2 separate regions of the Homo sapiens genome follow, and region 2 is linked to region 1. Evidence: fine-mapped expression QTL. A gene starts in region 1. The other region holds a variant in brackets. All regions are shown on one strand. Distances are between the middles of the regions. Region 1 holds the start of RAD18 (RAD18 E3 ubiquitin protein ligase). Region 2 holds the start of LOC107984112 (a long non-coding RNA gene).

Region 1 (2,917 bases):
CACTGAAATTGTGGGAATATGTAAAGTGTGCTTAAATCTACAAAGCAGGAGCTTTACAGGTTACAGAGCTCTTTTACTTTCCTTATCCAAGTCAAGCTTCATGACAACAAATTAAAAGGGGAAAGAAGCACTTAACACAGTGCTAATAATAATAAAATATATTCATTGAATGCTTACTACATTCCAGATACTTTCAATCAAGCAGCAAATAATATTTGAGCACCCACTTGGTGTCAGGCACTGCAGTAAGCACAGTGAATACACAGCAGAATCTGTGCCCACATACATCAACTAATTTATTTAATCAATCCTATGAACTGTTATTTTTGTCTCTAATTTATAGTTGAAGAAATTCAGGCTCAGAGAGGTTAAGTTACTAACCGAAGGTCATACAGTCAAGAGGCAGACAGGAGATTTCACCCAGGACCACTGGAACTCAAATCTGTGCTCTTCTCCACTGCATCCTGGTGCCAAGCCCACAACTCCAAAACTACAGCTTTCCTGGATCATTTCACAATGTCAGCTTCTCATCATGCAGATATCTCAAGTCCCCAAGCACTCTAGACGTCACTGATGACAGCAGGAAGAACAAGGCCTTCTACTTACTTTAGCCTTCACTTAATTCTAAAGTCAAATTTATGAGTCAGTGGGACAGGTATTATAATCCCCAAGTCTACAAAACTGAGGGAGAAGAAGGCTATCTTAGCCACTGTGAGAAACGGAAATAATCACAGAGCAAGAAGAAACACCAAGCAACTGATCTTTATCCAGCACAGCAAAGTGCATCTGCTCTTGAGCAAATCCAGGGCCCACCACTACTGTAAATGGAAACTGGTATGCCTTGCCAAAACAGAAAGTGGCCACAAAAATAAATGTTATTTAAGTGAAATAATCAGACGCAATGCAAGATCAGCGCTGAGCCTGAGTCCTGATCTCTGTTTAAGAGACATGAGCAATTGTTAGAGAAGAGTGAAGGTGTGTTAGAGAGGAGTTGGGGCAGTATGTCAGAACAAACGAGCACTACGTTTATTGAGAATAATCAGAAGAAATGAAAGAGCCTGTAAAGGAGACTACCTGCTTGGCTACGTGATTACATACATGTTATCTGATAAAGTGTCCACCCAAAATCATGTCCGGTGTCACTGTTTAGTGCTTGACACAAAGTAAGCTTTCAGTAAAGAACAGCTGTCGATGTCATTGTTTGGAATAACTGTTTTTCTCCATGTTATTGTTGGGATTGGATCGCAGAATAGCTGGTGCCATAAGACTGCCAACCTCAGCTCACCAGGCTTGTCCTTGTCACTTATCAGAGGAGTAAACTGAGACCCAGAGCCACGCGGTCGGCTAGTGGCAGGGCAGAGCCGGATACCCGGGCCCAGTGCGACGCTCGCGCCTCATCCTTTCTCCTTAAGGCGAGGACATCCTCCTCAAAGGGAGGGACCTCCCCCCGCAGACACCCGGGAGCTCCCAAACTCCCCGAAGCACTCACCTTCATGACTGCCAGGCCCGGAGGCCACCGAGACTCGGCCAGGGAGTCCATGGTCGCTCCCGAGGATGCTGGGGGTCAGCCACCCACTAGCCTCCGGCGCTCCAACACCACTCGAAATTCCCCGCGCTACCGCATTACGTCAGCAGCCCGCGACGCGCCAGAGGCGGGCGCGGAGCCTGCCGGAAGTTGTAGTAGTATGTGGGCGGGGCGCCGCTTAAGGGCTTGTACTGCGCATGCGCCAGGCTTCTGCCGCACTTACCTTGAAGAAAGTGAATGGTTAAAAAGCGTAGAGCCAGTTGAATATTAAGAAAAGATAGCCAGGAATCAAACCAAATCCAGACCTCACCAGATCTGTCAAGGTCCAGGCTCATGACCCCCCTCCGGGTCGCCCACCCTAATCGCAGTGACTATCCGTCCTTGCTCTGAACAGAAGTTTTTATATCCATTACTTTATGTCTCCCGTATCACAACACTGGGAGGTAGATGTTATCATTGTCAGTTTACACAAGAGAAGCCTACGCCCGAAAAAGTGGATAGAGTTTCGAGTCAGATTCCAAACAGGACCTCTGGGCTTTAAATGGGAGCTGTTGCTTTTATTCATATTAAAATTTTAATGCACGGTTTTTCTTTTTCTTCGGAGAGAAGCACCATTAACTTTGGCATATAGCCTTCTAGATATTTCCTATGCAGATTGACGAAGATTCTTTGCTTGAGCAAACTTTAGTCAGGCTCCTGAACCTTCTCCTAGGCCAATCTGTGTACTTCCTGTAAAAATCCAGTTTTAGCAAAAAACCCTGCTAAATCAAGTTACCAAGAATCCCCACCTTTGATATGTGATCACTCTTGATATCTGATGTGTTCCTCATCCTCCACCATCCCCCAGTTGATGTCTGATCACCCTGGCCTCTTCAGCAAGAATCTACTGTTACCTCTGATGTTTCCTCTTAGTAATTTTTCATGCACTGCTCCCCACCCTGCTTCCTGGCTATAAATTTCCATTTGCCCATGTTGTATTCAGAGTTGAGCCCAGTTTTCACCAATTGCAAGACACAGTTCCAGTGGTCTCTATACCTACTTGAATTGTCCTGATTAAGTCTTCCTTATTGTGCTTTAACAAGTATCATTGAACAATTTTTTTCTTAAACGAGATATAAATATAGATACTTTTTTTCATACATGTTATATTAAATGCATGAGGAATGGAGGTTTACGGTGTCCACCCCCGCCCCCCACTTTGTATCAGCCAATCATAGAACGGCATGCAAATGAACGCAAATGAATGCCAGGCTGAGCTGGAAAATGTCGGATAGTTCTGGATGTGGAGGAAGTGGGGTCTTGGAGAGACAAAGGAAAAGCATTTAAGACCAGGTCCGTGGCCTGAGTGAACCAGTAATTGTTTTTTTCACACTACTAGTTGGACAAGGTAAT
Region 2 (2,917 bases), 100 kb before region 1:
CCAGGTAAATACATATGACCAACTGGGATGCTTGCTGAAGGCAAAGAGAATTCAGAGAGAGTAGTGGAAGAAGGTAGTTATAAATACCTGCTACGGCCCTGTGACCAGTTACAGACACAAGAATTGTAATTATCATGAGTACTTCCTCCTTCCTTTGTTATGAATATGTGTGCATTATATTTATTATTTATATTAATTAATTATATATAAATAGCTTTGTTTTATTTCTTCTCTTATTCCCTTAGCATGCAACGTAAGAAATTTTGACTAAATATCATAGTATTTAAGCATTGTTAATTTTACATCATAGTATTTTTAGTTAGGTAATATCAAGGAAAAAGATATCAAGGATTTTACCTTATTTCTAGGAAAGGGGCTAGTGTATTTTTTATTGAATGCAGGAGAGTTGCATCACGTTAGGTGGAATTATGAACTTGTTCTTGTCTTTATCTGGAGATTAAGTATGGTTTAAGGAGGTGCTTATGGGTGCCAAGTTGACAAAGGATAGATTCATGCAGGTTCATTTTATGTGTCAACTCTACTGGGCCAGATACCTGGTTACATATTATTTCTAGGTGTATCTGTTAAGGTGTCTCTGGAAGAGATTAACATTTGACTTGGTAAACTGAGTAAAGCAGATTGCTCTCCCCAGTATGGGTGGACATCATCCAATCTGTTCAGACCTCAAATACAACAAAAGGGTGGAGGAGAGTTGAATTCTATCTCTACCCAGTGGTGAGAGCTGAGACATTGGTCTTTTCCTGCCCTTGGCCTGGGACTTACATCATCAGCTCCCCTGGTTCTCAGATCTTCAGGCTCAGCCTGGAATTTATAACACCAGCTTTCCTGAGTCTCCAGCTTGCAAATGGTAGATTACGGGACTTCTCAGCCCCCATAATCAAGCAAGCCAATTCCTTATAATGAATCTCAGCATCTAACTATCTATCTGTCTGTCTGTCTATCTATCTATCTCTCTATCTATCTGTCTATCATCTACCTATCTATCTATCTATGCATCCATCCATCCATCTATCCTATTTGTTCCATTTCTCTGGAGAACCCTGACTAATAAACTCTCCCACCTGGAAAAAAAGTTTTTAAACTATTCAAAATTTGTGCAACAGAAATTTTCAAGAAACTGGTCATCAGGAAAGGAAGGACAGATCCCTAAGAGAAAAGAAACCAGTAAGGTGAGCCAGCCCTACAACTGCCCAGCCCACTGTCTTGAGACAGTCTCCAGGTCACGACTTAGGGATGGGAACCCAGGCAGAGCTTGGCAAACTCTGTTGAGGAAATGCAGCTTAGAGTTCAGAGAGACCGTGGCAGCTAGAGAGATAGGAGAGAGACCAGAGGGGAGATTTCCCCAGAGAAAGCAAAACCTGGAGACCAGCAGAAGGTATCTCTTGGGTCTTCAGGAGAATACTTATTAGGATGTGTAGGAATACTACTGGAGGCAGGGAAAAGAACCATTTGAAAGGATTAGAGGTAACAGTGTCTAGTATTTACACACAGCTGGAAACTGGTCATTCCCACAGCTGGACACAGCCT[G/A]TTCCCACCAGCCAGACCGCAAAAACTCACCATTCACTGGGCACTCAGTAGAGTATTTGGGAAGGTCATGCCTCCATGGTGGGGTATAATTAGCCCTAAACTGATCCTTGTTGTAGACTCCAAAAAATCTTAAAAACAAGACTCTAAAGATTCAAATTGTTTCTGAATAACTCAACTATGCCCTAGAACAAAGATCAAGATTATTTATAAGAATACAAAACATTCAGCTACTGACAAGGTAAAATTCACAACGGCTGGCACCCAATAAAAAATTATTGGGCCAGGCGTGGTGGCTCACGCCTGTAATCCCAGCACTTTGGGAGACCGAGGCAGGTGGATCATGAGGTCAGGAGTTCGAGACAAGTCTGGCCAATATAGTGAAACCCTGTTTCTACTAAAAATAAAAAAATTAGCCGGGAGTGGTGGTGTGCGCCTGTTATCTCAGATACTCGGGAGGCTGAGGCAGGAGAATTGTGTGAACCTGGGAGGCAGAGGTTGCAGTGAGCTGAGATCGCGCCATTGCACTCCAGCCCGGGCAACAGTGCGAGACTTTAATTTAAATTTATTGACCCAGCCCCACTACTATTTATCTCTCTTAAGGTTCAGGAGGCTCTTCCCCACCTTTGAGCTGCCCAGCCTCAGAGACCGTGTTTCCAGTCTAGCCTCTGAAACACCTGGAGCCTGTTCCCTTCCCGGCTGACAGCCGAGTGGGAGGGAGCTCCTCTTCTTCCATGTGTGATGGTGTACTCAGAGACTCCCAGGAGCCCTCGCAGCTGGAAACTGGGCTGGACCCCAGCTCTCATTTCACAAGGGAGGCACATACAGGAAGCCAGTGATGCTAGCAACAGAGAAGCCTGTAGCAGGTTCCAGCTCAGAGAGCCCTTCTGGAGGCCCTGACCACCACCTTTACCCAGCCTCCAGCCTAGAGCAGTGCTAGACCAGATGAGGACATTAGATGGCTGACCTCAAAGGAACCCAGGAAGCCCTCAACTCACCCTTCTTTTATGACTGGGGAAGCTCAGGCCTTGAATGACTGAGTGACAGTCGCTTAAGTTCTCCCTCAGCAAATCTACTTCCGCAAGGCACTGCGACTCCTGCCTCCAAAGTGGGCATGTTCCCTCCAGCCTGAGATGAGTTAACCAACCCCTTGCGGAGGAAGTAGAGCAAAGATCTCATTTCTGGGCTTAGGACAGCCGCGCTACCAACATGGACAGAATGGACGCGGGGGCTGCCTTCCACCTCCCTCAGACGCCCACACAGTCCAGTGGTCCACCTCCCTCAGACGCCCACATGGGCCAGGGTCCTCCTCTATCAGAGGAAGGGCCCCTTCCTTGTTCTTTCCCTTCCTGCCCCAGATCAGAACAAGAAA

Evidence for each region. PIP is the estimated chance that this variant, and not a neighbour inherited with it, causes the effect. A credible set is the group of variants that fine-mapping cannot tell apart.
Region 2: its variant is the best candidate, but not a certain one, in a credible set for the expression of RAD18 in aorta (GTEx, PIP 0.59).

The regions. Positions count from the first base shown.
Region 1 is chr3:8,961,846-8,964,762 of GRCh38, forward strand. RAD18 (RAD18 E3 ubiquitin protein ligase) reads right to left here and starts at 1,627. Exons shown (of 13, transcript NM_020165.4): 1 at 1,490-1,627. The coding sequence starts at 1,540. RefSeq lists an enhancer at 1,475-1,644.
Region 2 is chr3:8,860,288-8,863,204 of GRCh38, forward strand. LOC107984112 (a long non-coding RNA gene) reads right to left here and starts at 958. Exons shown (of 2, transcript XR_007095814.1): 1 at 1-958. The variant G/A (reference allele first, on the strand shown) is at 1,549.